4 separate regions of the Homo sapiens genome follow, and regions 2, 3 and 4 are each linked to region 1. The links come from fine-mapping of genetic effects on gene expression. A gene starts in region 1. Each other region holds a variant in brackets. All regions are shown on one strand. Distances are between the middles of the regions. Region 1 holds the start of ATL2 (atlastin GTPase 2). Region 2 overlaps ATL2 (atlastin GTPase 2). Region 3 overlaps ATL2 (atlastin GTPase 2). Region 4 has its middle 95 kb from the start of ATL2.

Evidence for each region.
Region 2: its variant is fine-mapped to the expression of ATL2 in whole blood (TOPMed, PIP above 0.99).
Region 3: its variant is fine-mapped to the expression of ATL2 in whole blood (INTERVAL, PIP above 0.99).
Region 4: its variant is fine-mapped to the expression of ATL2 in whole blood (TOPMed, PIP above 0.99).

What each region holds. Positions count from the first base shown.
Region 1 is chr2:38,373,494-38,381,599 of GRCh38, reverse strand. ATL2 (atlastin GTPase 2) reads left to right here and starts at 4,327. Exons shown (of 13, transcript NM_001135673.4): 1 at 4,327-4,457. The coding sequence starts at 4,340. RefSeq lists silencers at 3,908-3,957, 4,028-4,187, 4,408-4,907 and enhancers at 4,158-4,407, 4,234-4,733, 4,734-5,235.
Region 2 is chr2:38,325,775-38,333,880 of GRCh38, reverse strand. All of the region lies in intron 2 of ATL2 (atlastin GTPase 2), which reads left to right. Among named protein-coding and RNA genes, the nearest start is that of ATL2, 47 kb to the left of the region's middle. The variant G/C (reference allele first, on the strand shown) is at 4,210.
Region 3 is chr2:38,347,832-38,355,937 of GRCh38, reverse strand. The region is part of intron 1 of ATL2 (atlastin GTPase 2); the gene reads left to right. Among named protein-coding and RNA genes, the nearest start is that of ATL2, 25 kb to the left of the region's middle. RefSeq lists enhancers at 1,414-1,913, 1,914-2,415, 3,888-4,388. The variant G/T (reference allele first, on the strand shown) is at 4,191.
Region 4 is chr2:38,278,452-38,286,557 of GRCh38, reverse strand. It overlaps the pseudogene GAPDHP25. Among named protein-coding and RNA genes, the nearest start is that of ATL2, 95 kb to the left of the region's middle. RefSeq lists an enhancer at 7,540-8,106. The variant T/C (reference allele first, on the strand shown) is at 3,558.

The DNA.
Region 1 (8,106 bases):
GCCTTTGAAGATGCCTGCAAGTATCAGCATGAATGGCTGTGCCAGAGAGGTATGCGCCCATGTCCAGGCTCCTACAACAAATATTAGCCACAGAAACCCTTGATTTTTTTTTCTTTTCTTTTTTTTTTTTTTTTTCCGAGATGGAGTCTTGCTTTGTTGCCCAGGCTGGAGTGCAGCGGTGGGATCTCGGCTCACTGCAACCTCCACCTCCTGGGTTCAAGTAATTCTCCTGCCTCAGCCTCCTGTGTAACTGGGATTACAGGCACCATGCCTGGCTAATTGTTGTATTCTTAGTAGAGACAGGGTTTCACCACGTTGGCCAGGCCAGGTCTTGAATTCTTGACCTTGTGATCCGCGCCCCCCCACCCCGCCCTCGACCTCCCAAAATGTTGGGATTATAGGCGTGAGCCACTGCACCTGGCAATTCTTGATGTTCTTAATTTAATCTCCTTTAGAAGGTCTATCCCAATGACCCTGAATCACTAGCTTTGGATATAAATAAAATTTTTCTGCCAGTCAATAACCCAGAGTCCCTATTCTATTCTCTTCTATTTACTTACTTTTCAAGTACAAACATAAAGCCAAGACTAGAGTCCATTTTCTTGTCCACATCTACTCTAGCAGGAACTCCGATTTCCCTCTGTCCCTACAAAATATTTCCTCCCTGGCCCCTCCCCCAAAGGAAGCCTCGCCTGTGGCAAATCGGTTCATTAGCCACAGTCACTGTACAACTTCTGGGACAAATCAATGGTCTGTACCCCTCAGGTCAACGAACGGAGCCTACAGAGTCCATCATGAGAATATTGGCGACTGAGTCAAGCTCGTTGCTCTGTAGTACCTCCAGTGCTTCAGGTCTGTGAGGAAAATTTCCTAGCCCTGTTCTGCTTTTTGTAACCTGGCCCTGAAGCAGCTCTGCCTGCGTCCAGAATTTCACATAGTCTCAGAGAAACAACTTCTTCATTTCTGTCAACCATTCTTGCACAAGAAAAGGAGCAACAGTTTGCAAGCATGGTGTAGCTTAAACAAAACTTTCAGGAAACGCATCACTGAAAAGATAACAAGGTCTGCAGAGATGCAGTTTGCCCACAACAAAGACAGCCTTTTTCATTCTCGGAGAGTGTAGTTTATCTCATTTCAGCCTCAGCAATATCCAACACCTTTTCTATTGACAACACTGCTTTATATTTGTCTTTGGCTTCTCTCTACTCTAACCTTGCCCCGTCCATCTGATATCACCCCAGGCAAGTGAGTGGTTTCCACTAATGGATATCTAAATCTCTACCTCTCACAGGGAGGAACTTTCCTTTTATCTTTTTTCTTTTTTTGCCACCCAGGCTGGAGTGCAGTGGTGTGATCTTGGCTCACTGCAGCCTCGACCTCATGGGCTCAAGCAATCCTCCCACTTTGGCCTCCTCCATAGCTGGGACTACAGGTGCGTGCCTGGCTAATTTTCGTATTTTTTGTAGAGACAGGCTCTCATTATGTTGCCCAGGTTGGTGTCAAACTCCTTAGCTCAAGGGATCCACCCACCTTGGCCTCCCAAAGTGCTGGGACTATAGGCATGAGCCACCGCGCCTGGCCCATTCCTTCTATCTTACACCATCTCCATGAAGGTTAAAATGATTGTAGGGCAAGTTCTTGTCAGTTCTCATATTCTCAGTACCCCGTGCTTTCCCATAGAAGAGTTATAAGACGGAATGTCTCCCTGAGAGGTGGCAAGGAAAAATTTTCCTTAGGAATCACTGACTTTTTTCCGGACAGCAAAAAATTAATTAATTAATTCTTTTTTTTTTTGAGCTGGTGGTGTTAAGCAGCAGTCTTTTTTGAATGGTATTGCTCCTTGCGGAGTAGGGCTAACTCACAGGCAGTGTACCCAGGGTCAGCCTATTTTTTTTTTTTTTTGAGATGGAGTCTCACGCTGTCATCCAGGCTGGAGTGCAATGGCACGATCTCAGCTCACGGCAACCTCCACCTCCCAGGTTCAAGTGATTCTCCCACCTCAGCCTCCCGAGTAGCTGGGATTACAGGCACCCGCCATCATGCCAAGTTAATTTTGGTATTTTTGTGGAGATGGGGTTTCACCATGTTGGCCAGGCTAGTCTTGAACTGCTGACCTCAGGTGATCGCCCCACCTCGGCCTCCCAAAGTGCTGGGATTACAGGCATGAGCCACCACACCCAGCCTTTTTTTTTTTTTTTTAAATAAGCGTTTGACCTCTCTTGATTCAGGCATAGTAACCACAGATGGGGGAGAGAGTGGGTTTGGGAGCCAAGATAGGCAGAACACCAAAAAGAGAAGAACATAGGCAAGGAAAAAAAAAAGAAAAGAAAAGAGAAAAGCAAAGCAAAACACGAAACACATGGGGTAGCAGCCTAGATTAGTAGATAGAATTGAAGTCCTTAAAATCGAAGGCACAGTGAGGGAAACCATAAGGTCTTTTATTACATGTAAGATATTCAATATCTTCCAAAGGACTGCCTATACTAAGCATAGAGGGTGATTTGGCTTAGGTGAACACTGCACTTTGGTAAGGATTCAGGTAGCTTTTTGTTGTCACTGACTGTATCAACCTTAATTTAGCAAATGGCCTATGCTGTGCTGTTTGTAAATGGTTTCTTTTTTCTATGTGCCTAAGCAAATGTTTTTTAGTGAGTAAATGACAGTAAATAAATCTTTGTAGAACAATCCTCGTGAAGATTTTTTTGCCCTTCTTCTCCTCCTCCTCCTCCTTCTTCTGCTTCTGCTTCTTCTTTTTCTTCCTTTTCAATACTACGTTTTTCAGGCCAATGATAAAACAGAAAATGTCTTGACAAAGTGAGCTCTCCAAATCATATATCACAAGGACGTAAGAGGAATATCACTTAACAAGTTGATAAAGATCCTGCCATCAATATGAACGAGGGGGAAGGGTAACTGTACTTTAGATTGTGGAGGTGGTTCAAGTCCCAGAACTAGAATCTTAGTAACTCAAAGAATATTGCCAAGAACACGTATATAGTTATTCTCCTAGATTTATGTGACAATGATGACAAACTCCATATTCTGTTGAAATATATTTGGATGGGCCGGGCGCAGTGGCTCACGCCTGTAATCCCAGCACTTTGGGAGGCTGAGGCGGGTGGATCACGAGGTCAGTAGCTCAAGACCAGCCTGGCCAAGATGGTGAAATCCCGTGTCTATAAAAATACAAAAATTAGCAGGGTGTGGTGGCGGGGGACTGTAATCCCAGCTACTCCGGAGGCTGAGGCAGAGAATTGCTTGAACCCGGGAGGCGTGAGCCACCATGCCCTACCTAGAATGGTATTTTGAAAGCTTTAATAACACCAGTGCTTTTCTAGAGATTGTGCATGCTGTGAATTTTAGACTTATGAAAAGACCTGGACAAAACAGCTGTTTGTACACCCGGACATCTGTTTTTACTGGAGAAGAGGAATTTCTAATGCAGCTGGCAGTATGGTAAAAATCCAAAGGGATCATGTTTCACAGACGCCTCCACGGGCTGACTTGTAATTTAAAAAGTGACCTGAACTTTCTACTGGATGTCACTGGATCCCCAGAAGAAGGTTCATCACAATTAGGTAAGAACCTGCCACGATTCATTTTCCGATTAGAGTGCTTTCTGGCATGCCTCTGCAAGGTGCTAGGAGCACAGGGCCAGGGTATACACAGTTGAGAAGATGGGGGAAGGTCTCATAAGTAGATGGGGAGCGAATGCAAACAAACCTTAGGATGGTGGGGGGGAGGGGAAGCAACAGTAGGGACTTGGGTGAGGAAAGAAAAGATCAAGAGGAAAAGCAGGGCACTGGCAACAACTTGGGGGGTGGATGGGGAGAGAGGAGGGGAATGGCTGTGATGAGGAGGGGGCGATGAAAAGGAGAGAAGGGGTGCGAAAGCCACCTCACGTGCAGGACGCACGAATCAACGATTAGAGATGTAAAGCGAATTGGGAGGGAGGGACTTAGTTCTCTGGAGCTCCCTTCTGCGTTTGCAGAGCCTGGCCCAGCGCTAAGGGGGTGTGGTGCTGAGCTCAGGGAGGTGGGGGTGTGAGACGGCGGCGGCAGGGACACCCCCGCCCCAGTCCAACCAGAAACTTGGAGCCGGGGAGACGGATCTGCAGGCGGGCAGGGCGAGGGCGGAGCGAGCGAGCGATGGGCGGGGCGGGGGCGGAGGGAGGGCGAGGAGATACAGGCGGAGGGCGAGGAGATACAGGCGGAGGGCGAGGAGATACAGGCGGAGAGCGGCGCTAGGACCCGCCGGCCACCCCGCCGGCTCCCGGGAGGTTGATAAAGCGGCGGCGGCGTTTGACGTCAGTGGGGAGTTAATTTTAAATCGGTACAAGATGGCGGAGGGGGACGAGGCAGCGCGAGGGCAGCAACCGCACCAGGGGCTGTGGCGCCGGCGACGGACCAGCGACCCAAGCGCCGCGGTTAACCACGTCTCGTCCACGACCTCCCTAGGTACGGGCCAGCGAGGCAGAGGCCGCGGGGCCCTGATGGGGAGAGACGCTCGCTGCTCGGGCTCGCGGGCACCGGCCGCAGGCGGCGGGGTCGGAGTCCGCGGCTGGTTCAGGTCTCCTCCCGCCGCCGCGCCTGCCCGCCGGGCCTAGCCTCAGCCGCGCCCCGCGCTCCCGCAGCGCGCGGCCTGAAAGGGCGGCTCGTGGGCCGCGGCTCCAGTAGCTGCTGGGAGAACCAGTGGCGCGCGCGTCTGCGACCGGCCCGGCCCCCTGCCCGCCAGCCCGCCGCGTGGCTGCCGCCGTGTCCGCCCCGACCTTAGGGGGCGGCCTTGAGCCGTGGCCGCCTGCCCGGGGCGCGGGGAGGTCGGCTGCGGCTCCGCTCCGTCCGGCGAGCTCCGGACGCGGCGGGGCGACCCGTTAGCTGGTGGGCGTTCGCTGTCCCTTACGCGGACAGGGAGGAAGGGGTGGCCAGGGCATGATGGGCCCCGCGGAGGAGGAGGTCGCGCGGGGAGCAGACACCTTGCTGCCGGGTCCGAAAGCTCCTTAGACACCCTTCCTGGAGGGAACCGCAGTCCGCAGGCCAGGGCTCTGTCCCCGGGCTCGCGTTTCGGGGCTCCTCGGCTCCCGAACCCATTCGCGCGGGTTGTGCGTGGCTAGGGTGCAAGTCTAGATTTTCGTGTCAAACTGGGGTTATGAGCCGTTTACGAGTCACTTGGACGATAGTAAGGCCTGATCACTCTGAAAGTGTCTGTAGTGTGAAGTCACCTGATCCTTGGCTCCCTGGTTTTGCTGAATGTGAGCTCCTACTGTACGTGTACCAGGAGCGCCCCTGCCCCCTCGAAGACGCAGTTGCGTTGGCAGCGCAGTGTATCCCTCTCACTCATAACACCCCTATTTATAGGAGTTTAGCGTTTGATCTCTCACTGTGGTGCGAATTGATCGCATGAAATCCTGATTGAAAATTTTGATGGTACTTAAGAAAGGCATAAAGTTTTTTCAAAGGCTTATAAATAGTAAAAGCCTACGATTTGGTAAGTACGGCCAAGATAAGAGTTTATTATTAAATACAGATACGAGCTCGTGTCTTAAGATTTCTTTTTTTACGGTGTGTAAAGGTTTTGCTGGATAAAATGTAAAGCATTTTGGTATGATGTTAACCACAAGGACTCACTTTAATAGGAAAGTTTATTTGAAATATACTTCATCATTCCTGGTAGTTCTTGGCGCATGTCAGAGGTGATGACAGACTGGAGTTTTGCTAAGGGAAGAAGAAAAGGAAATAAAGCTTATTTTATTATTGTCTGCCAACCAAAACGCTTGACTGTTTGTACAGTGGTAGCACTCTGTAGAATAAAAAACTACCAAAGAAGCAGCTTCGCCTTAGATGTGTGCTGGTTGGATTTCTTAAGTAATTAATTGTTTTGGAATGCGGATGGATTAATTTCGCTCTTTTGGTTGGACCCTAGGGGAAGAAGTGTGTGTTCTTTTCTTTCTTTCTCTTTCTTTCTTTCCTTTTTTTGAGGTAAGAGTTTTAGATGCAGTTTCAAAATATTCTATGTATTTACCTTATTAGAAGAAACATAAATTTATACTTCAGTTATGGTTGTGAACGTTGTTGTGCTGTGGTATCTTGAGAAGAGATGATACTCTTCAGATTGTTGTTGAAATAGGGCCCACCATTTATTATTTAATAAATGCTTTTGTCTGCTACTCATAGGTTTTTGTCCTTTGTTTTTTAGGACGGATCAGCAAGACCTTCACTTGATAGCCATTCCTAGCAAATGATTGCCTAAAACAGTCCCTGTACCTGCTAATTTGCTCCGAGTCACTCATTAATGAGTTAAAAACTAAATGAGCTTGGTAGGATTTGTGTTTAAAGTGAGAAGAAACAGACTGAATGAAAAGGACTCATCTATTTTTGACTGTGTAGAAACTCTTTGTCTCCCTCTGCTTCCTGGAGAAATAGCTTCAAAAACCAAGTTGGGGTCAAGTGTCACTTGAGTAGTTTAGTGTTAGGGAGAGGCTTTGTGTTTATTCTTTTAGGAATGTAGGATCTTTAGAAAGCAAATAAGTACTCATTTTATTGGCTTTTTAAGTTGATAGGATTCTGTAGATATGATTAAATCTATTTAGTAAAGTGTTTTGAAATTCTTCGAAATTATTTAGGGAGAAGTAGCTGCCTTACAGTAAAGATATTATAGGGAAAAGAAACCCTGAGTGAAAATAAGATTATGGCCTTAAGTCGAGTGCACATAGGTGTATTTCAGGATTCGTTTTTCTGTGACTGTATTGTAACTTTAAAGTTTTGGAATATTCACAAGTATAAGTAACTTTCTTGAAATTGTTAGACCTTTTCCAAAATTAGGCTTTTTCCACAGTTGGTATTAGGCAGCTAGCTGCTAAGAGTACGGGGAGACTGATTAACTAGTTTGATAATGCTGGATGGAGTTCAACATATATTTTTTAAATTTTGGGACTTCATAGCAAGATGTATTAAAAAATTGTTGATGGTCATTTGGAAGACCTGTTTGACACACACAATTGTCAGCAAAGCTGTTTGTCAGGCCCTTAAAAAGTTAAGAGCCAGAAATGTAAGGCATAGGAGTAGAAGTTAAACTTTTTGGTAATGGTGGTTTAGAGCTTTACAGCGCAAAGATTTTCTCCAGATAGGTGCAGGGAAGCAGCTTTCTTCTTTTCTTTCTTGTTTTTAACGTGTAATGGTATTCTGATTTTGTAGACATTTTGGGTTTTCAAAGTCCAGGTGTATTATTTACTTTCTAGAAAATTTGAGAGTTATTTACTTTAAGGAATGTAGATGTGAACATAGAATAACTGAACTTGATTCCACAGTGAATTCATTACTTTAGTAGTTTTCTTCCTATCCGTTAGTCCTCCACACAGCACATGATACACAACACTCGAGGGCTTTCTCTATGGCTTTAAAAATGGATAGCAGGCTGAGTGCGGTGGCTCACGCCTGTAATCCCAGCACTTTTCGGAGGCCGAGGCAGGTGGATCACCTGAGGTCAGGAGTTCGAGACCAGCCTGACCAACATGGAGAAACCCCCTCTCTACTAAAAATGCAAAATTAGCTGGGTGTGGTGGCGCATGGCTGTAATCCCAGCTATTTAGGAGGCTGAGGCAGGAGAATCGCTTGAACCTGGGAGGTGGAGGTTGCCGTGAGCCGAGATCATGCCATTGCACTCCAGCCTGGGCAACAAGAGCGAAACTCTGTCTCCCCCATAAAAAGGATAGCAGGAAGAAAGTACCAACCTGAAAATATGATGGCAATAGGATAATACTTGGTAGATATTATAGAAAGAAGTAGAACAATTAGTAAAGGAAGTAGAACAATTCTGTTTGTTATGGTCATGGAGAAGCATGAAGTATTCAGAAGTGCAAAGCCAAAATAACTTTTACAGATGATTTTCCAAGTTATGGAACGTGTCTCTGTGTGCTTGGGTATATACACATATTGCTAAACTTGGATACAGTTTTTTAAAAATGTGTGTATTTAAGTAGCCACCTTCACTACCTACTCTGAGACAAATGGCTGTGTGGTGTATGGTCGGATGATAGTTACTAGAAACAACTTTTAAGTCATAAAAGACTAACATCCTCTGTTTTCCCAAGGAGATAATATGTACTTTTGA
Region 2 (8,106 bases), 48 kb after region 1:
TCATCAAATGTTACCAAAGCTAGAGGAATCAGAAATAAACGAGATGGAAGTGTTTACAATATTGTTTGAAGTCCTTATTGCAGCATTTTAGGAGAGACTTTCTTGGTTACGTTCCTGAACCTGTTGCCTGAAAATACTCTGTCCTTTGCAGCTTTTCCAGCTTTAAGTCCCAAATGTATGTATTGCCTCTTTTGCAGTATCATAAATATTATGGCACCCCTATCATCACATATTTCCATTTTGGATTTGAGAGAACATAAATTACAGATCTTTTTTCATTCCAAACTCTTTGTTCCAGTAGGTTACATTAACTGTTTCTAAAGTAACTGGTTTTATTTAGGCTATTTATTGAAAAATACCTCAAGCAACAAACTGTTACTCATAAACACTGACTACTCAACCACCAGTTTTAGAACATTTAGGGAGTTAAGCCATCTTGTATAATATAAGTTCCTTTTGTGTTAATACTAACTGTTTTTGGAGGAGACTTTTTTTTTAAGGTAATTAACTCCCTACCTCCTTCCCTCACTCTGCCAGGACAATTTTGCTATTTAGCTTGTACATTTTTTAAAAAATTATTTTAACTTTTTTAGAGATATCGTCTCGCTCTGTTGCCCAGGCTGGAGTGAAGAGGCACAATCACAGCTCACTGAAGCCTCAAACTCCTGGGCTCAGGTGATCGACCCTGAAGGGCCTCACTTTTTAGCCCAGCTTGGTCTCGAACTCCTGGGCTCAAGCAGTCCTCCTGTTTTGGCTTCCCAAAGTGCTGGGATTGTAGGTGTAAGCCACTGTGCGTGGCCCAGCTTATAAATTTTAGTTCAGAATTTCTTTTCTTTCTCTTTTTCTTTTTCTTTTCAGATCAAGTCTCACTCTGTTGCCCAGGCTGTCCTTGAACTCCTGGTCTCAAGCAATCCTCCTGCCTCAGCCTCCCAAGTAGCTGGGACTTACAAGACATGTGCCATTGAGCCTGGCTTCAGAATTTCTTTGTTCTCACAAATTTCTTTCCTTTAATAGGATACATTTTGTATAGATTGGAGAATGTATACCATAATTCTTTCATCAAGAAGCAAGTTCAAGGCATAAGATTTATGTCACATTGTACTAGTATATGGACAGTCAACAGAAACTTGAGTGGGCCATTCATTCTCCCCTGGACTCTGGTAGTGTTATACAAGTGGGTTTTGTGTGACTAGGAGTCTTTGTTGAACTTGTACACTAAAGGTATTTGATTTTTTGTTTTTCCTTTAACAGTGTTACTGAGATATAATTTACTTACCATATAAGTCATTCACTTAAAGTGTGCGGTTCAGTGGTTTTTAGTATATTCACAGAGTTGTGCAACTATTACCCCAATTAATTTAAAAATGTTTCCATTGGCGGGGCATGGTGGCTCGTGCCTGTAATCCCAGAACTCTGGGAGGCCGAGGTGGGAGGATTGCTTGAGCCCAGGAGTTTGAGACCAGTCTGGGCAACATAGGGAGACTCCATCTCTACAAAAATCAAAAAATTAGCCGAGCGTGGTGGTGTGTATCTGTAGTTCCAGCTACACAGGAGGCTAAGGCAGGAGGATGTCTTGAGCCCAGGAGGTTGAGGTTACAGTGAGCCCTGATTGTGCTATTGCACTCCAGTCTGGGAGAGAGCAAGTCACAGTCTCAAAAAGAAACAAAGTTTCCATCATCTCAAAATGAATCCCTGTGACAGCCCTTTGGCTGTTACCCCCAGATCCTTTCTCCAAACCCTCAACCTGAAGGAACCGCTAATCTATTTTCTGTCTCTGTGGACATTCATGTAAGTTGAATCTTAAAAAATGTGGTCTTTTGTGACTGGCTTCACTTAGCATAATGTTTTCAGGGTTCATCCATATTATAGCATGTATCAGTACTTTTTATGGCTGAATAATATTCTCTTGTGTGGATATACCACACTTTATCCATTCATCAGTTAATGGACAGTTGGTTTGTTTGCAATTTTATGACTATTAGGAATAATGCTATAATCATATTAATATATAATGTTAATTACATAAAATATATTTATATATGTATATGTCATAATAATGATGTGAAAGAGGGTTCTTCCTTCATTTTTTGGTTATGTATCTATTTGTCCCAGCACCATTTTTGGAAAGACTTTTCAACACTTCCACTATTGAATGCTCTTGATACCTTATTGAAAACCAGTTGATTATAGATATATGAATTTATTTCTTGACTCTCAGTTCTATTCCATTGATCTGTATACATGTTCTATTTTTTTTTTTTTTTTTTTGAGATGGAGTCTTGCTCTGTTGCCCAGGCTGGAGTGCAGTGGTGCGATCTTGGCTTACTGCAACGACCTCTGCCTCCTGGGTTGAAGCAGTTCTCCTGCTTCAGCCTTCCAAGTAGCTGGGACTACAGGCATGCGCTGCCATGCCCGGCTAATTTTTTTTTTTTTTTTTTTTTTTCTTGAGACAGAGTCTCACTCTGTTGCTAGGCTGGAGTGCAGTGGTTCAATCTCAGCTCACTGCAACTTCTGCCTCCCGGGTTTAAGTGATTCTCCTGCCTCCGCCTCCTGAGTAACTGGGACTACAGGTGTGCGCCACCATGCCCAGCTACTTTTTGTATTTTTAGTAGAGATCGAGTTTTACCATCGAGTTGGCCAGGATGGTCTCCATCTCTTGACCTCGTGATCCGCCCACCTCGGCCTCCCAAAGTGATGGGATTACAGGCATGAGCCACCACACCTGGCCAGTTTTTTTTTGTATGTTAGTAGAGACAGGGTTTCACCGTGTTGCCCAGGTTTGTCTCGAACTCCTGCGCTCAGGCAATCTGCCTGCCTCCCAAAGTGCTAGGATTACAGGCGTGAGCCACCACGCCCGGCCATGTCTTGTTCTTATACCAGTATCACGCTGTCTTCACTACTGTTGCTTTGTAGTAAATTTTGAAGTGAGGAAGTGAGTCCCATTTTGTTCTTTTTCAAGATTGTTTGGCTATTTTGGGTTCCTTGCAATCCCATATGAATTTTAGAATTAGCTTCTCAGTTTCTACAAGAAGTTAGCTGGGATTCTATCAGTGATTGGTTGAATCTGAAAGATCAATTTGGGAAATACTACTGTGTTAACAATATTAAGTCTAACAGTCCATGAATATGGGATATTTTTCCATTTATTTAGATCCAAACATTTTTTTATAGTTTTTGAGTATAAGTTTTGCACTTTTCTTCAATTTATTCCTTTTGTTGATGTTACTATGAATGGAATTGCTTTCTTAATTTCATTTTTGAATTGTTCATGCAAGTGTATAGTTCATATACTTGACTTGCATATTGATCTTGTATCCTTGAAACAAATTGAATTTGTTCATTAGTTCCAATAATTTTTTTAGCGGATTCCTTCGAGTTTTCTATATACAACATCATGTCATCTGCAAATGATGATTGTTTTACTTCTTTCTTTCTTACCTGGGAACCTTTTATTTCTGTGTCTTGGCTGATGGTCCCAGCTAGAACCTCTGGTAGTATTGAGTACAAGTGATAAATAATGAATATCCTTGTCTGTTTTCTAACCTAGTTTCTAGAAAGCACCTAGTTTCTCACTACTATGTTAGCTGTAGGATTTTTTGTAGATTTTTTTTTAATTGAAGTTTTTCTTTATTCCTAGTGTGCTGGGAGTTTTTTTTTTTTTTTTAAATCCTGAATGAATGTTGGATTTTGTCAAATAGTTTTCCTGTATTTATTGATATTATCATGTGTTTTTTTTTTCTTTCTTTTCTTTTTTGAGACAGTCTTGTTCTGTCACCCAGGCTGGAGTGCAGTGGCACAATCTCGGCTCACTGCAACCTCTGCTTCCTGGGTTTAAGCGATTCTCCTGCCTCAGCCTCCACAGTAGCTGGGATTACAGGTGCATACCACCGTGCCTGGCTAATTTTTGTATTTTTAGTAGAGATGGGGTTTTGCCATGTTGGCCAGCCTGGTCTTGAACTCCTGACCTCAGGTATTCTGCCCGACTTGGCCTCCCAAAGTGTTGGGATTACAGGCGTGAGCCACCATGCCCAGCTGATTTTTTTTCTTTAGACTATTGTTATGATGGATTACATTTATTGACTTTAAGTTGTTGAGCCAGCCTTGCATTCCTGGAGTAAATCCCACTTGATCATGGTGTGTAATTCTTTTTGTACATTGTTAGATTTGATTTGCTAATATTTTGTCAAGGATTTTTGCATTTATATTCAT[G/C]ATATATACTGGTCTGCAGTTTTCCTTTATTTGTAGTATCTTTGTCTGGTTTTGGTATTAGGGTAATACTTTGAATTAATTAGGAAGTATTCCCTCTGCTTATTTTCTAAAAGAATTTGTAGAGAACTGCTACCATTTCTTCCTTAAATGCTTGGTAGAGTTTTCCAGTGAAGTCAGTTGGGCTTTGTAAATCCTTCTTTTGGAAGGTTATTTATTGATCTTTTTTTTTTTTTTTTTTTTTTTTTTTTGGAGATGGAGTCTTGCTCTGTCTCCTAGGGTGCAGTGGCATGATCTTGGCCCACTGCACCCTCTGCCTCCTGAGTTCCAGCGATTCTCCTGCCTCAATCTCCTGGGTAGCTGGGATTACAGGCGCCCACCACCATGCCTGGCTAATTTTTGTATTTTTAGTAGAGATGGGGGTTTCACCATGTTGGCCAGGCTGGTCTTGAACTCCTGACCTCAGGTGATCTGCCCATCTCGGCCTCCCAAAGTGTTGGGATTACAGGCATGAGCTACCACGCCTGGCCTTTTTTTTTTTTTTTTTTTAAATAGATGATCTAGTTCTCCTTGTGTGAGTTTGGTAGTTTGTTTCTTTCCAAGAATTGCTCCATTTCAACTAAGTTACTAACTTTGTGGGCATAGAGTTCTTAGTATTCTTTTATTTTTTTAATGTTCAAGGAATTAGTAATGAAGATTCTTCTTTGATTTCTGATACTAGTTTGTCTTATCTTTTTTCTCCCCTCTCTCTTCAGTTAATTATATTGATCTTTTTGAAGGATCAGTTTTTTGTTTCACTGATTTGTTTTTTCTGTTGTGATTTTCTGTTTTCTTGTTTCAATTTCATCAGTTCTTGCTCTGATTTTATTCATCTTACTTTAGGTTTATATTGCTCTTCTTTTCCAGTTACCTGAGATGGCAGCTTAGAGTATTGGTTTTAGATCTTATTTTCTTTCCTACTGTATGCATCTAATGCTATAAATTCTGTAATCATGGTTTTTGCTGCATTTCATATATTTTAATAGGTAGTATTTTCATTTTCCTTTAGTTCAATATATTTTAAAATTTCTATTGAGATTTCCTTGACTCCTGTGTCATTTTGAGGTGAGTTGTTTTAAACTCCAACTATTTGGGGAGTTTTCCAGCTGTGTTTCTGTTACTGATTTCTAGTAATAGTTTAATTCTGTTGTGGTATGAGAGCATACTTTGTATTATCTATCCCTTAAAATTTTTAAAGGTGTATTTTAAGGCTCAGGATATGGTCTACCTTGGTGAATGTTCTTTGTGAGTTTGAGAAGAGTATGTATTGTGCTGTTGTTGGATGAAATATACTATAATGTCAGATCCATTTGATTGTTGATGCTGTTCAGCTCGACTATGTTATTGGATTTCTACTTGCTGGGTGTGTCAGCTACCTATAAAGAGGTGTGAGGTCTCCCAGTATAATAGTGGATTTGTCTGTTACTCTTTGGAGTTCAATTTTTGCTTCACATATTTTGGTGTAATGCAACTCTTAATCTTTGTTCTGAAGTGGTTTTTATGTTTCCTTATTTTGAAAACTGCTTTGTCTGTAATTAACATAGCTACTCTAGCTTTCTTTTGATTAGTGTTGGCATGGTATGTTTTTCCCATACCTTTACTTCTAACCTGTGTCTGTCTTTGTAAAGTGGAGTTTTTAAAATAGATAGCATATAGTTGGCTCTATTTTTTAAAAACCCACTGTGACAATTTCTTTTTTTGAGACAGAATCTTACTCTCTCACCCAGGCTGGAGTGCGGTGGCACAATCTCGGCTCACTGCAACCTCCGCCTCTCTGATTCAAATGGTTCTTCTGCCTTAGCCTCCTCAGTAGCTGGGATTACAGGCACCCGCCACCACGCCCCGCTAAGTTTTGTATTTTGAATAGAGACGGGGTTTCCCCATGTTGGCCAGACTGATCACGAACTCCTGACCTCAGGTGATCCACCCACCTCTGCCTCCCAAAGTGCTGGGATTACAGATGTGCACTGTGCCCGGCCAACAGTTTCTTTTAATTGGTGTATTTAGGTCATTCACATCTAAAGTGATTGTTGATATAATTGGATTTGTAGCTGCCATGCTTATAATTGTTTTCTGGTGTTTTTTTTTTTTTTTTGTACTTTTTTTTTTTTATATTCCCCTCTTTTTCTGCCTTCTCCAATTTTAATTGAACATTTTACTTGATTGCGTTTTCTGTACTCTCTTAATATATCTGTTAAACGTGTTTTTTGGTGGCTGCCTGGAGTTTGCAATGTACATTTACAACTAAGCTAAGTCCACTTTCAGATATTATACTGCTTCATGGATAGTGCAGTTACCTTAGCGTATTCCTAATTCCTCCTCTCTTTTATACATTGCTGTCATTTGTTTCCCTTATCTATATACTATAACCACCTAAAAGATTTTATTTTACCTTATTATCCTTCTCTGATACTCTTTCTCTTTATGTAGATTTGAGTTTCTGACCTATATCATTTTCCTTTTTGCTGACGTATTGGCGACAACATTCCTTGGTTTTTGGCTAAGAAAGTCTTTACTTCTTTTGTAGGATAACTTTACTGGATACAGAATTCTAGTTTGGTGGGGTTTTTTTTTCTTTTTTCCAGCTTTGTCAACATTTCACCCTATTTCCTTCCTGCTTGCATGATTTTTGTTTTGCTTTGTTTTTTGAGATGGAGCCTTGCTTTGTCGCCCAGGCTGGAGTGCAGTGGTGCGATCTTGGCTCACTGCAACCTCTGCCTTCTGGGTTCAAGTGATTCTCCTGCCTCAGCCTCCCAAGTACCTGGGACTACAGGTGTGTGCCACCACGCCTGGCTAATTTTTGTATTTTTAGTATAGATGGGGTTTTGCCGTATTGACCAGGCTGGTCTCGAACTCCAGACCTCAAGTGATCCACCTGCCTCGGCCTCCCCGAGTGCTGGGATTATAGCCATGAGTCACTGCTCCCAGCTGCTTGCATGATTTGTAATGGGAAGTCCAGTGTAATTCTTATCTTTGTTCCTCTGTAGGTAAAAGTGTTTTGTTCCTGGCTTCTTTCAAGATTTTCTTTTTGTGTTACTTTGCAGCTAGGCTATAATATATACCTAGTGTGGATTTTTTTGGTATTTATCCTGCTTGGTGTTCTGTCCTCTTCCTGGATCAATTTCCTATTTTCTAATTCTGAAATATATCATATCTGAGTCTGGTTCTGTTGTTTGCCTTGTCTTTTCAGTCTATTTTTTTCTTGCCTTTTGGCATGGCTTGTAATTTTTTGCTGAAAGCCAGACATGAAGTATCAGGTAATAAAGACTGAAGATTTAGGCTTCTATTATGAGGTTATATGTTAATCTAGTTGGGAGATGGGCTGTGTTTAACGTGTTTTTTAGCTGCAGGTCCTAGAGGCTTCAGTTTCTCCTTATTCTCTCACTGTCTTTGGGGTTTCCCAAGAACTTTTATTGAACTCAAAATCTGTGTCTTGCAGCTTTTTTATTTGTAATCCACTGTCATTATATTGGAGCATTGTTGATGAGGTGGTAAAGTGTAGGAGAGCAGAAGCATCGTATGCCACCTTATGGTTAAATCTTAGTTTTATTTTTATTCTTTTTTGAGACACAGTCTCCTTATGTTGCCCAGGCTGGTCTGGAACTCCTGAGCTCAGTCTCCTGAATAGCTGAGATTACAGGCAGACACCACTGCACCTGGCTCCTTAGTTTTTTAGTGGGCCTGAGTCCTGGTCTATGACCCTCTTTTTTTTTTTTTTTTTTTTTTTTTAAACAAACAAACAAACAAAACCTTAAACTAGACAGGAAGCCTAGATGGGGCTGGAGTTGGCTAATTTAATTGCTCCTCCCTAGGGTCAGATAAAGCTCTGGTAAAGTAGTTTTCTCAGGAGGGCAGGCTTTT
Region 3 (8,106 bases), 26 kb after region 1:
TGGATCATTGAGGTCAGGAGTTCAAGACCAGCCTGGCCAAAATGGTGAAACCTGTCTCTACTAAAAATACAAAAATTAGGCGTGGTGGTGCGTGCCTGTAATCCCAACTACTCAGGAGGCTGAGGCAGGAGAATTGCTTGTACCTGCAAGACGGGGGTTGCAGTGAGCCGAGATGGCACCACTGCACTCCAGCCTGGGTGACAGAGCGAGACTCAAAGAAAAAAAAAAAAAAAAGAACCAAACAAATGTGACTATGCATTTATCTGTTTTTCTTTTTAGTTCTCTGAATTTTTGCTTCGTGTATTTTGAGTTTCTTACTTGGCATTGTTATGTCTTTCTGATGAGTACACATTTTATATGTGGTATGCTTTTAGTCTTGAAGCCAGCTTTGATGTTTATGTAGCTACTTTAGCTTTCTTATGATTAATGTCTGTATAGTATACCTTTTCCCCTTTTACTTTGAAACTTTACTTGAACCAAGCTCTGTCTTTTTATTAAAAGGACATCTCTAATATACAGTATGGCCAGGCGCAGTGGCTCACGCCTGTAATCCCAGCACTTTGGGAGGCCGATGAGGGAGGTCAGAAGTTCAAGACCAGCCTGACCAATGTGATGAAACCCTGTCTCTACTAAAAATACAGAAGTTAGCTGGGCATGGTGGAGGGCGACTGTAATCTCAGCTACTCGGGAGGCTGAGACAGGAGAATTGCTTGAACCCAGGAGGCGGAGGTTGTAGTGAGCTGAGATCGTGCCATTGCACTCCAGCCTGGGCAACAAGAGCGAAACTCCATCTCAAAAACAACAAAGAAATACAGTATATAGTTTTGCTTTTATTACCCAGTCTGGCAGTCTCTGCGTTTTTATTGGAGTGTTTAGTGTATTTATATTTGATGTAATTATTGAATTTAGTTGGGTTTAAGGTTGCCATCTTGCGTGTTTTTCATTCATCTCTTTTGTCTTTTGTTCTTATTTTTTACTTTGGGTTCATTGAATATTTTTTACTATTTTATTTTGGTTTCTTATTGGCTTTTTTTGGTTTTTGTTTTTGAGAAAGAGTTTCGCTCTTCTTACCCAGGTTGGAGTGCAATGGCACAATCTCGGCTCACTGCAACCTCCGCCTCCTGGGTTAAAGGGATTCTCCTGCCTCAGCTTCCCGAGTAACTGGGATTACAGGGATGTGCCACCACACCTGGCTAATTTTTGTATTTTTAGTAGAGACAGGGTTTCTCCATGTTGGTCAGGCTGGTCTCGAACTCTCAACCTCAGGTGATTCTCCTGCCTTGGCCTTCCAAAGTGCTGGGATTACAGACGTGAGCCACCACACCTGGCCCCTTATTGGCTTTTTAAGCTATACCTTTTTTCTTTTTGTTTGTTTTAAAGCCGTTACTCTAGGGCTAATGATATTCATCTTTAATATATCTGCCTATTTAGAATCAATGTTTTACCACTTTCCACTTTAAAATCATAACCTTAGGGTGTAATTTCATTTACTTTGCCTCATAACATGTCTTTTAAAATTTTGTACTTCTACATACTTTATAAACCCCACATTGATCAATTATCTTTTAGGGAGATTAGTTGGAAGAAAGAACCAGTCTTTTATATTTGTATCTGTTTACTATTTTGGATTCAGATCAATAGGAAGGAATAAAGAGACTTTCCATTTGATAATGTTTCATTTCAGCCTGAAGAACATTATATAGCTCTCATGTAATGCACATCTGCTAATGACAGATACTCTTTGCTTTTTTTTGAGACAGAGTCTTGCTCTGTCGCCAGGTTGGAGTGCAGTGGCACGATCTTCGCTTACTGCAACCTCCCGGGTTCAAGTGATTCCTCTGCCTCAGCCTCCCAAGTAGCTGGGATTACAGGTGCGTGCCACCACGCCGGCTAATTTTTTGTATTTTCATAGAGACGGGGTTTCACCATGTTGGCCAGGATGGTCTCGATCTCCTGACCTCTCGTGATCTGCCCACCTTGGCCGCCCAAAGTGCTGGGATTACAGGCGTGAGCCACCGCACCCGGCCATACTTTTGCTTTTGCTGTCTTTATTTTGCTTTCATTTTTGAATGATCGTTTCACTGAATATAAAAGTCTAGGTTGACACTTCTTTTAAAAACACTCTAAAGCTATCAATCCCTTGTCTTCTGGCCTCCAGTGCTTCAGTGATGATGTGATAAGCAGCAGTTATTTGAATTATTCTGCTCTGTATAATTGTATAATTATTACATAACTATACAATAATTACTTGAATATTCTGCTCTGTGTCCTGTTATCTTTGGTTTTTGGTTTTTAGCAGTCTGGCTGATGTGGTTTTCTTTGTATTACCGTACTGGAGGTTTGCTGAGCTTTTTGGACCTGTAAATCTCTGTCATCAAATTTTGGTAACATTATGACTATTGCTTCTTCAAATATTTTTTCAGCTCCAGCCTCACTTTGTTCTCCTTCTGGGATTCTAAATGCAGGTTGGATAGTGTTCCATAGGTTCGTGAGACTCTCTTAGTTTTTCTTTATTCTTTTTTCTCTCTGTACTTCAGATTAGAAAATCTCTTTTGATCTCTTTGCAAGTTTACAAACTTTCTTCTGTTACCTACAGTCTGCTGTTGTCCATCCAGTGAGTATTTCATTTTAATTACTGTACTTGTCAGTTCTAGAATTTTCATTTGTTTTTTAATAGTTTCTATAGTTTTTTGGCTGAGACTCCTCATCTATTTATTTATTAAGACTTTATTTTCCTGTAAGTCCTTGAACGTATTTACAGTATCTGGTTAAAAGCATTTGTCTGCTAAATTCAGCATCTGGGTCATGGCAGAATTGGTACTGTTAACTGCTTTTCTTTCTTGACTATGGGCTACATTTCCTTCTTTCTTTGTATGTCTAGTAATTTCTGATTTATATACTGTATATTAAATGTTATGCATTGTAGAGATTTTGGATTCTCTTAGCTTGTTTTTGGTTTGGCAAGCAGGTTAATTACTGATGGATCTTGACCTTGGCTTTGCTTCATACTTCGTTAGTGTGGGTCTGTGGAAAGCTTAGAGGAAATCTCCCTAACTTAGTGGGACTAAATTTCCAAACTGTGTACCTTGCAGATCTTTTCAAGTCTTGGTTTTATTTAGGCTTTGATTGGATGGATTGTCAGTAGGCCTTACTCTAGAACTTGACCCTTAATTCTAAGATATGTCGATTCTAGTGTCTCAGCTTGATGCCTAAGGTATAGATGTTTCTTTCCACTCTGGCTGGGCCAGAACTCCAAAGTGTCTCAGTAATGTTTGACTTCTGTTTCTCTCTCAACCCTGTAGTAGCTTCCTTCTGTTAAGCATTGCATAGTGTTGTGTTCCCCTGCACCTGTGATGCTTGTTGTCCTTGTCCAAGGAGTTCTGGGCTCCACCTCTGCATAGATCCTTTTTCTCTGGTATCCTGCCTCACAGATTCCTACTGCTCTAGCAATCTTGAATTCAGATCTTTGTGCTCTAGTTCTTCACTCTATAGTTAGGAAATTGTTCCCAGGCAGAGAGCTGGGAGTGATCATGGCACTCACCTTGAAAGTGTCCTTGTGCTACTTGTTGTCCATTGCTTGAAAAACAATGCTTCATGTATTTTGTCTAATTTTATAGCCACGGTCGAGGGCCAGTCTGATACCAGTTACTCTAATGACTAGAAGTCTCAAATATCCTCCCTCCCCCAAATACCTGTGTTTTAAAAAATGCAAAATAGAATTGGGGGTGATTTTTACTACTTTGTAGTCTGCCCTTTTCCCACTTGATTTTATGGTGGTTTTTTTTTTTTTTTTTTTTTTTTTTTGGTTGTTGTTTTTGTTTGTTTTTGAAACAGAGTTTTGCTCTGTCGCCCAGGCTGGAGTGCAATGGCGCGATCTTGGCTCACTGCAGCCTCCACCCCTGGGTTCAAGCAATTCTCCTGCCTCAGCCTCCCGAGTAGCTGAGATTACAGGGGCCTGCCACCACACCCAGCTAATTTTTGTATTTTTAGTAGAGACAGAGTTTCATCATGTTGGCCAGGCTGGTCTCAAACTCCTGACCTTAGGTGATCTGACTTCCTCGGCCTCCCAGAGTGCTGGGATTACAGACGTGAGCCACTGCACCCGGCCAATTTTATGCTGTTTAAAATAATACATAGATTTTTTTGGCTAGGTGAGGTGGCTCACGCCTGTAATCCCAGCACTTTGGGAG[G/T]CGGAGGCGGGTGGATCGCCTGAGGTCAGCAGTCTGAGACCAGCCTGATCAAGGTGAAACCCCATCTCTAGTAAAAATACAAAAGAATTAGCCAGGCGTGGTGGCAGGTGCCTGTTGTCCCAGCTACTCTGGAGGCTGTGACAGAAGAATTGCTTGAACCTGGGAGGTGGAGGTTGTAGTGAGCCGAGATCGTGCCACTGCACTCCAGCCTGGGCAACAGAGCAAAACTCTGTCTCAAAAAAAAAAAAAAATTAAATATATATATGTATAATTTTTTTAGAGTGTAAATGTGTTTTTTAGGCTGCATAATATGTCAGTATATGGCTAAAATAACTGTTCGGCCACTTTCCAGTTTTGAGGTACGCAACATTAATTTTTGCCACCAGAATAAAATTAGTGTCCTTATTTCCTTATAATAAATCCCTAGAAATATATTTAACCATCGTATAACCTCTTTAAGGCTCTTAAAAAATATGTGCTAGAATAAACTTGAATACTTAGATACTGTTTTCACTTGGGTATGAAATATAAATGTTGAGGTTCAAGTACTAGGCACTAACACGTTACTTAGCTTTTGTGGGATAACTAATTTTTTTATAAGTAGACTGAATAGACTGAATCAAGGTTACTTTCCATGAAAATTTGTTTCAAGTTTTTGTTTGGAATGTGAATAATAAAATATACTTTTCATTCCTTTTGAAAGGTGAATTATTCTTTGTTCTCTTTTTATAAGTTTAGTTTTGGGTTGATGTAATCTAACATTAATGCTACATTTTATTATAATGAAGATTTGTAGCACTTTTTTATTATCTTAGTTTATAATTAAGCTTGAAATTTGCTGAGGATCTAGGTCAGCCCTGAAGTGTAAATTTTGCTGTTGGAATACATGCTGAGTGTCTGAATTTGGCAGATTTAAGATAATGTGTGATTAGACAACAAAAAGACAGGTGTCTTATTTAAATAGACTTTTTTGGTTTTTTTTTTTAGAGCAATTTTAGCTTCACAGCAATATGAAGCGAAATTGTAGTTCACGTACTCCCTGCCACTCCATATACACACTGTCCCCCGCCATCAGCGTTTCACCCACAGTGGTGCTTTTGTTAAAATCAATGAACCTTCACTAACACATCATTATCATCCAAAGTCTATAGTTTTACATTATGGTTCACTCTTGGGGTTGTATATTCAATGGTTTTTTTCATAGATGTATAATGACAGGTATCAACCAATTTCGTATTATAGAGAATAGTTTCACTGCCCTAAGAAATCTTCTGTGTTATGCCTGTTCATCCCTCCCTATCCCCCTAACCCCTGGCAATCACAGGTCCTTTTACTAAGACACCTTTCTTTTGTTAGGCCGTGTGGCAAATAGATATTAGGTAGGTACCTTAGTGTTAATGTGTGGAGAGATGTTTGAGAAGCAGGTGATCATCTTTAGGTGTCTTTTAGCTTTGACCTTGAAAGACCCATCTGGGGGCTAGCGTAGGGAAAACTGACTTGGAACTGTGAATCACAAAAATGTGTTGGGGGGCTGAAATCTACTTGTCTTAGTAAATTTTTGGCATTGAAGAATGGAAATAAAATCACTATTCTATACACAGGACGTAACTTCAGTTTAAAATCTTAGAGTGGTGTGGAATTTAGAGACTTTTAATTGTAGGCAATCACTAAATGCTAGTACAGTATTTACAGGTATCCTAATGAAATTTACATACAATTCTCTTTTATTCATTTGCTTATATCAGTGTTTGATGGAGTACTTTATCTGTATTTAGTCCATATTTGGTAGAGAAATCACCATGGGGAGTAAGTAGATAGATGCAGGTGTATCACATCATTGTTAGGCTCCATTATACTTTTGAAATCTATTTGCTACCCTTCTCTGTAAAAGGCTGTAGACTAGATATGGTGACAAATATGTAGACACATTCTGTCTATTTGAAAGGCCTGTCTTTGTCTGTGCTAATAAACTTGGTTGCATAGTGACTGGCCAACTAATATAGGTGAATTTTCGAGTTAACAAAGGTTTTCTGCCCAGTGGGGTTTTTTTTTTCCTATTTTATTTATTTTTTATTATTATACTTTAAGTTTTAGGGTACATGTGCACAATGTGCAGGTTAGTGACATATGTATACATGTGCCATGCTGGTGTGCTGCACCCATTAACTTGTCATTTAGCATTAGGTATACTCCTAATGCTATCCCTCCCCCCTCCCCCCACCCCACAACAGTCCCCAGAGTGTGATGTTCCCCTTCCTGTGTCCGTGTGTTCTCATTGTTCAGTTCCCATCTATGAGTGAGAACATGCGGTGTTTGGTTTTTTGTCCTTGCGATAGTTTACTGAGAATGATGATTTCCAATTTCATCCATGTCCCTACAAAGGACATGAACTCATCATTTTTTATGGCTGCATAGTATTCCATGGTGTATATGTGCCACATTTTCTTAATCCAGTCTATCATTGATGGACGTTTGGGTTGGTTCCAAGTCTTTGCTATTGTGAATAGTGCCACAACGAACATACGTGTGCATGTGTCTTTATAGCAGCATGATTTATAGTCCTTTGGGTATATACCCAGTAATGGGATGACTGGGTCAAATGGTATTTCTAGTTCTAGATCCCTGAGGAATCGCCACACTGACTTCCACAATGGTTGAACTAGTTTACAGTCCCACCAACAGTGTAAAAGTGTTCCTATTTCTCCACATCCTCTCCAGCACCTGTTGTTTCCTGACTTTTTAATGATCGCCATTCTAACTGGTGTGAGATGGTATCTCATTGTGGTTTTGATTTGCGTTTCTCTGATGGCCAGTGATGATGAGCATTTTTTCATGTGTGTTTTGGCTGCATAAATGTCTTCTTTTGAGAAGTGTCTGTTCATATCCTTTGCCCACTTTTTGATGGGGTTGTTTGTTTTTTTCTTGTGAATTTGTTTGAGTTCATTGTAGATTCTGGATATTAGCCCTTTGTCAGATGAGTAGGTTGCGAAAATTTTCTCCCATTTTGTAGGTTGCCTGTTCACTCTGATGGTAGTTTCTTTTGCTGTGCAGAAGCTCTTTAGTTTAATTAGATACCATTTGTCAATTTTGGCTTTTGGGTTTTTTTTTTTTCTTAAACTTCTAAAAAACCAACTAATGCTTTCTTTACAATAAGAGCAAAACTATTGTTTGTTTTAGCAAAATCACCAACCTCCACACTTGGTCATTGTGATATTTTAGCAGTTATTACTTTTGAGTTCTTTTTTAAAGTGTTTTACTTGGTTCATAATTTTTTTTTTTTTGAGATGGAGTTTCGCTCTTGTTGCCCAGGCTGGAGTGCAATGGCGCAATCTTGGCTCACCGCAACCTCCGTTTCCTGGGTTCAAGCAATTCTCCTCCCTCAGCCTCCTGAGTATCTGGGATTACAGGCAAGCAACACCACTCCTGGCTAATTTTGTATTTTTAGTAGAGATGGGGTTTCTCCATGTTGGTCAGGCTGGCCTTAAACTCCTGACTTTAGGTGATCCGCCCTCCTCAGCCTCCCAAATTGTTGGGATTACAGGCGTGAGCCACCGCGCCTAGCCAAGCTTCATAATTTTTATGGAATTTTTGTGTTACGTATACTTAATACTCTTGAGTTGTCGGAGGTATTTCCCCAAGCTATTTGATTATCATATTTGCTTATAAACTAGGTAAGGGCAGGGCCAGGCATAGTGGCTCATGCCTGTAATCCTAGTACTTTGGGAGGCTGAGATGGGTGGATCACCTGAGGTCAGGAGTTTGAGTCCAGCCTGGCCAACATGGGGAAACCTTGTCTCTACTAAAAATACAAAAATTAGCTTGGCGAGGCATTGGGCATCTGTTGTTCCAGCTACTCTGGAGGCTGAGACAGGAGAATGGCTTGAACCCAGGAGGCAGAGGTTGCAGTGAGTCGAGA
Region 4 (8,106 bases), 95 kb after region 1:
AGGTGGGGCTCCCTAGACCCCTCCCTCTTCAGGGGGTCTGGATGGAAACTGTGAGGAGGGGAGATTCTCAGTGTGGTAGGAGACCTAGTGCAATAGGGGATTCCTAGCAGCTGAGGGCCTGAGGCTGGTGGTCTGGGGGTCTTACTTCTTGGAGGCCATGTGGGCCATGAGGTCCACTGCCCTGTTGTTGTAGCCAAATGCATTGTCATAACAGGAAATGAGCTTGACAAAATGGTCATTGAGGGCAATACCAGCCCCATCATTGAAGGTGGAAGAGTGGGTGTCACTGTTAAAGCTGGAGGAGACAACGTGGTGCTCAGTGTAGTCCAGGATGCCCTTGAGGGGCCTCTGATGCCTGTTTCACCACCTTCTTGATGTCATCATATTTGGCAGGATTTTCCAGATGGCAGGTCAGATGCATGACCGACACATTGGTGGTGGGGACACGGAAGGCCATGCTAGTAATCTTCCCATTCATCTCGGGGATGACCTTGCCTACAGCTTTGGCAGCACCAGTAGATGCAGGGATGATGATCTGGAGAGCCCCGTGGCCATCACACCACAGTTTCCTGGAGGGTCCATCTACAGTCTTCTGGGTGGCAGTGATGGTGTGGGTCGTGGTCATGAGTCCTTCCACAATACCAAAGTTGTCATGGATGAGCTTGGCCAGGGAGGCTAAGAAGTTGGTGGTACAGGAGGCAATTGCTGATGATCTTGAGGCTGTTTTCATATTTCTTATGGTTCACGCCCATCATGAACATGGGGGCGTCAGCAGAGGGAGTAGAGATTATGACCCTTTTGGCTCCCTGCTGCAAGTGAGCCCCAGCCTTCTCTGTGGTGGTGAAGACACCGGTGGACACCCAAATGTACTCAGCGTCAACATTGTCCCATTTGATTTTGGTGGGATCTCGCTCCTGAAAGATGGTGATGAGATTTCCGTTAATGACAAGCTTCCCATTCTCAGCCTTGACAGTGCCATGGAATTTGCCATGGGTAGAACCACACTGGAACACGTAGACCATGTAGTTGAGGCCAGTGAAGGGGTCACTGATGGCAACAATATCCACTTTACCAGAGTTAAAAGCAGCCCTGGTGATCTGGTGCCCAATGTGGCCAAATCTGTTGACTCTGGCCTTCACCTTAACCATGGTATCTCAGGATGTGGCTGGTGCTACACGAGAAGATATGGCTGTCTGTCAAATGGGAGGAGCGGAGAGCCCTGACTAGAGTATCTTCAACTGCATTATCACAATTCTGAAATAGGTACTCAGCTGTCAACCCAAAATAAAATTCTAAGATGTCCCCCAACTATCTGAATGGACTTTGTCCTTGGCCAGTGCACTCTTAAAATTAAACCTGAAAGACCAGTTCAGGCCATGATAGGAAGTGGGGGTCGGACATGCCTCATTAAACCTCTCAGGCATTCACATCAACACAGACTTTAAGTCTGATAAGAAACGTTTTACAGCCTATTCTCTCTGAAGCCTGCTACCTGAAGACTTCCTCTGCAAATAAGAACTTTGGTCTCCACAATCTTTTATCTTAACCCAGACATTTCCTTTCTATTTATCCCAGGTCTTCAGATAAACTCAACCAATTGTCAGTCAGAAAATTTTTAAATCTACCTATAGCCTGGCAGATTTAAAAGGATGTTTAAAGACATTACTATGAAGATTTTCAAACATGAAAGTAGAGAGAATAGTGTAATGAAGTTTCATGTACCCATCACCCAGTTTAAATGGTTATCAGCACATACGCAGTCTGGTTTTATCTACACACTTCCATTCCCCCCATCTGAAGCTTGACTATTTTGAGGGAAATCCCAGGTATTATATCATTTCTCTCATAAATACTTCAGCATATATCAGTAACCACAATACCTTTATCCTAAAATAATAGATCATTACTTAATATCAAATATCCAGTCAGCATTCAAATTTCCCCAGTTGTCTCATGAATATCTTTGTTATCACCAATGTCCCTGACCATCCACTACAAGAGGTTGAACTTAGTATTCATGTGCGTTGCCACGTTGGGTGGCATGAGCTCTATGCATCACTGATTTTCTCAAAATTTAAGGGGGATCCATCTACCTTACCTCTTAATTCTTTACAAGTTGCACATCTAGCATGAATCATTTTAGGTTTCATTGACCAGGGCATGTTTTAGTACAAACAAATGAAAACACCCAGTACCTTCCTTCTACCTTCTCTTTCTCCTATCCCCCAAACAAAATTGCATTTCAGAATTAAAAGCTTTGTGTTCTTGAGATAGTTATCATTACAGTTGTAGGAACCTGAGGAAAGATTATGCTGTTGACTCAGTAACTTCCTGCTCTGAATCTGACTTCTTGCTCAGGCAGAATTTTTCAAGGTGAATGTAGAAAATGAAGTTGGAAGGGCCAAGGAAGAGGGCTGCAGTAGTGGTAGTAGCAGTAGTAGTAATACAGCAATTATAGAAACAGTCATTCATTCATTCATTCATTTGATCATTCAGTTTATTCATTCCACAAGTATTTATTAGGTACCATATGTCATGTATAAATACCAAATATTTATATGGTACCATATGTTGTATGCAGGAGGATAGCAGTTGTAGGAGCAGTAATTATTCATTTGATCAATTTATTCATTTCACAGATATTTATCAGGTACTAGTTACAGGCATTAGGGAAATGTCAAAGAATAAAAGAGACAAAAATGTCAGTCTTTGTAGAAAGTCAGGCAAAAATGTAATAAAGTAAATTCAGTGGTTTGTTAGAATGTGGTAAGTGCTATAGAAAAAAATAGAATAGGATGAGGAGTGCTGGGGGTGCGAGGGTTTACTATTTGAAATAGGATGGTGAGGGTAAGCATTCTTGAGAGGCAACATTTGAGCAAAGACTTGGAGGAGATGAAGCAATGAGCCATGCAAATATTTTGGGGAAGAGTATTCCAGAGAAAAGGAACAGGCATGCTAAGGCCTGCAGAATGAGTGTGGGTATCATGTTAAAAGGATAGGAAGGAGGTGAGTCTGACTAGGAGGGAATGAACAACGGGCAGAAAGTGATGAGATCGGGGAAGTATTAGGGGGCATGGCCTTGGAGGTCCTGTAGGCTGTTGAAAGGAATTGTTAGTAGGACGGAAACTGGGAACCATTAGGTCATGTTGAGCAAAAGAGTGACTGAAGTGGACTTAAATTTTGATTGGGTCATCTTGGCTATTGTGATGAGAATAGACTTGAGGGTAAGGAGGGGATAGAGTAGAAAAAGATTAATTAAGAAGTGACTGAAATAGTCCAGGTGCACGATAATAATGACCCTGGGTCACATGAAAAGAAGTAGACTTTGAATATATTTTGATGAATTGAGAAGTCATGATGTAAGTATTTCCTAGATATAAGTTACTTTGCCTGTAACGTTTCTAATTTTTACAACAGTGCTTGAAAGTTTTCAAAGATGAGGAAACTGAGGCTGAGAGTGGCAGGGCCAATTGTCCACAGGCGCACAGCTATGAAACTTTCCTATATGCATCAGCCTTCCTTGTTCTAACAGTGGAATGCATGCTAGATAATTTAAG[T/C]AGGAAGGGAAGCACAAAGGCTATTTGAAACCCACAGAAGTTTTAGAGAAGCTAGGCTTACCTTTTTGGAAAGCTCCCAGAACCATACCTCAAAATTGAGCATGTAAAAGAACTGGAGCCATAACATAGCCTCTGCCGTGGGTGGTGGAAACAGCTGCCATCACCACTGACTTCATCACCAGGCTGCCTTTGCTGCCCTTGAGCCAGTGAAATACCTGTCTTGGTCTTTCTCAGAAAACTGATTTTCATTTTTTTTTTGAGACAGAGTCTCACTCTGCCGCCGAGGCTGGAGTGCAGTGAGTGGCACAATCTCAGCTCACTGTAACTTCTGCCTCCCGGGTTCAAGTGATTCTCCTGCCTCAGACTCCCGAGTAGCTGGGACTACAGGTGCCTGCCACCATGCCTGGCTAATTTTTGTATTTTTAGTAGAGACAGGGTTTCACCATGTTGGCCAGGCTGGTCTCGAACTTCTGACCTCAGGTGATCGGCCTGCCTTGGCCTCCCAAAGTGCTGGGATTACAGGCATGATCCACTGCGCCTAGCCATAGAAAACTCATTTTCAAAATAAAGTCTTGTGTATGTATCTCTGATTGGTAGAAGCTAATACACCTGTTGATAGCCTAATTTCAATGCACTATATAAAAATTATTCTATATGAGGGATGAAGGATTAACACTTGGGGAGTGATTAAAGTGGGGAGAGTGTGTTTGAAAGACTCAAAGTAGGCTCAAATGACGGAGTTCCCTGCAGTTCACTTTCTGGCTGTGCAAGGTCAACATAGACCCTTACTCTATCTTCACATCTCCAACCTGAACAGCCATGCCACTATCCCTTATACAAAACATGCTACTCCCTCCTCAAAAGAGGAAGCCCCAGATCCCAATTTATTGCAGTTAGCTCTAAATTCAAGATTTTTGTTTGATGTTTACCATTCCATCTTTATATCCCGAAAATTATATATAAATTGTAAAAGTAACTGACCAATTATATAGAATAATTGGAGAAGGATGAAGGGGCATAAAAAGAATTAGTATACATACTTATATATTTAAAACCCACCAAGGAAGGAGAAAAATAAGGCCATAGTTGACCTTTACTTATCTCCTGTTCCCATTGCCCTTAGCCACACCTTTGGCTTTACCTGGTGGAGTGACCCAAACCTTTATTCTTGAGGGATTGGAGCCCTTGATGGTCCTCTACTTCTCTAGGGTTGCTCTAGTCCTTTGGTAACTTTCACCATTAAACAAGGCAGTATGAGAAGAGCCCTCAGAGGATCCCCTAATTTCCAAACATTCCTACCTGCCTGTTTCATGTAGTACAAATCCTATTTTCCCTTGATGCTCAGGATCAATGACCTCAGATAAAATGGTAACACTGCCCCTCCCCCCTGCCCCTACCCATTATTTGCTTGTTTAGTGATTTTGTGTAAGGAGCCTGAAATGGTGAGTGCCAGCCTCAACTGGTAGAAGCATTGCTCTGATGAAACATTTCTCTCTTGGACATTCATGTTTCTAAACTAGCAGAATCTAAAATCACAGGGATGGCAAACAAACATTTTGCAATTGGATCGAAAAATCTAAAGTGGAAGTTGTCACACTCACTTTTATTTATTGATACCCAGACATAAATTCTGGTTGTTGGCGAAATACCATTCGATTCCTGTTAACAGCATGTGTCCTGCACATGGTAGGACAACACCCAGTTTTACAAAGTGCTGTCTCTTGGCTGGTACTGGAGAGTTCAGAAGGCCATTCTGCCATTCTATAAAGTTACCTGCTTCACAGCAAAAGCATTCACTGGTCTTGCCATATATCCTGTGAGCACTGGCTTATTGCATTATTACTTTCGTTGTAAAATAAATTTCTTCATAAAAAGCACCTTTGGGGCTTGGCGCAGTGGCTCACGCCTGTAATCCCAGCACTTTGGGAGGCCAAGGCAGGCGGATCACCTGAGGTCAGGAGTTCGAGACCAGCCTGCCCAGCATGGTGAAAGCCCGTCTCTACTAAAAATACAAAAAAATTAGCCGGGCGTGGTGGCAGGAGCCTGTAATCCCAGCTACTCGGGAGACTAAGACAGGAGAACTGCTTGAACCCAGGAGGCAGTGGTTGCAGTGAGCTGAGATCGTGCCATTGCACTTCAGCCTGTGCGACAAGAGCCAGACTCTGTCTCAAAAATAAATAAATAAAAGCACCTTTGGGTGGAATATTATGGTCATGATTAAGGTATTTAGTATGTCTGCAAAGGATACCATGCAGGGGAATCTAATCCATAGCCAGAATGAGTGTCTCAGTGGAGAGAAATTGCAGCATTTCTGTGATGAAAGTGGTTCTTTGTAACCTTTTTTTTTTTTTCTTTTAGACAGAGTCTTGATCTCTTGCAAGGCTGGAGTGCAGTGGTGTGATCTCAGCTCACTGCAATCTCCGCCTCCCAGTTTCAAGCAATTCTCCTGCCTCAGCCTCCTGAGTAGCTGGGATTACAGGCGCACACCACCACAGCCAGCTAATTTTTGTATTTTTAGTAGAGATGGGGTTTCACTATGTTCATAGGCCAGGATGGTCTCGATCTCCTGACCTCAGGTGATCCGCTTGCCTTGGCCTCCCAAAGTGCTGGGATTACAGGTGTGAGCCACCGCGCCCGGCTCTTTGTAACCTTCTAACCAGATGCCAAACTAATCTCCTTGGGTTCCTGTACCGTACTGGAAGCTCAGAGTTGACAGATTGGGCTCTCAGCCATGGTCGTAGGCAGATTAGCTTCGGTGTGAAGTCTGTTTGCTGAGCCCAAGTGTCCCCTTCATTCCTCCTTCCATGATGACGGGGTTCCTGAAGCTATCAAGCAGGCACTGGAGTGGCTGGGGAGACAGTCTTTTACATTGTACTCAGGAATTCCTGACATCTCAACTTTATTTAGTGTAGGTCACTATTGAGTCCAGATTTTAGGACATAATTAGAATTATGTCCTAGGGCAAACCATTAGAACCTCTCCTAGTTTGCCTAATCATTTAACTTTGGAATCTCTAAAGTGAATTCTTGTTACAATGTAGCCCAATCTAGCATGATCTATCATCCACAGAATCCATTCTCACGAATAGTATTACTCAGGTTTTCTGAGTAAATAAGCAAAATTTGAAAAGCTTTTTTTTTTTTTTGGTTTTGGTATGTGTTTTCTCTAGGGTTCGACTTTGTAATTGGCCTCATGGGATAAATGGATATAATTATAGGTTTAGGTCCAGTAGAAATGACATGAGGAAAATTAGCATATCATTAAGGTAGCTATTACAGAGTCTTTAAGCAAGGTGGGGCTGGGTGCGGTGCCTCCTGCCTGGATTCCCAGCACTTTGGGAGGCCGAGGTGGGCGGATCACTTGAGGCCAAGAGTTTGAAACCAACCTGGCCACTGCACCCCAGCCTGGGCGACAGAGAGAGGCCCTGTCTCAAAAAAAAAAGAAAAAAAAAAGCAAGGTGGGATCAACTTTATCAAACAGAAGAAAAGCTGCTTCTCTCTCCAGAGCATCTCAGGGCATGCTCAGTGCTCCATCTGTCTCTACTCATTCACTTCCCCCAGTGTGAAATGCTCACGTTCTGTGTAGGTGATTCATATCTATGTCTCCCAAGGCTCAGCTTCTTCATGCCTGAGAGGTCAGGCCCATTTGATATTTCCCTTGTGTGGAGTCCTCTAGCCATTGTCTATGTCACATCCGTTGCTACTTACCTATATTCCCTTTAGTATTGCCCCACACATGCAAATTGTGTTGACTCCTCAGGTAAGCCTAGGCTGCTCCAACGAAGGTGCATAGATAGGGCCAGGCAACCCTCATCTCATTGTGCCTTGCTTTATTGTTCTTTGCATATATCACGCTTTTTTTTAAAATGGAAAATTTGTGGCAACCCCGCCTCAAGCAAGTCTATTGGTATCATGCTTCCAACAACATGTGCTCAGTCTGTGCCTCTGTTTCATTTTGGTAATTCTTGCAGTATTTCAAACATCTTCTTTATTATTATATCAGTTATGATCATCTCTGGTCAGTGATATTTGATGTTACTATTGTAATTGGGGCACTACAAACTGTGCCCAAAGAAGATGACAAACTTAATTGATACATGTTGTGTGTGTTCCGAATGTTCCAACCACTGGCCTTCCCCCATCACTCTCCCTCTCCTCAGGCTTCCCTTTTCCCTGAGACACAACAACATTGAAATTAGGCCAATTAATAACTCTACGATGACCTCTAAGTGTTCAAGTGATGAAGGGGTGGCCTGCCCCTCCACACCTGTGGGTGCTTCTTGTCAGGTGGACGAGAGACTTGAGAAAAGAAAGAGACACAGAGACAAAGTATAGAGAAAGAAAAGTGGGTCGAGGGGACCGGCGCTCAGCATACGGAGGACCCACACCAGCACCAGTCTGTGAGTTCCCTTAGTATTTATTGATCATTATCGGGCGTTTCTCGGAGAAGGGGATGTCGCAGGACAATAGGGTAATAGTGGAGAGAGGGTCAGCAGGAAAACATGTGAACACATATCTCTGCATCATAAACAAGGTAAAGAAAAAAGTGC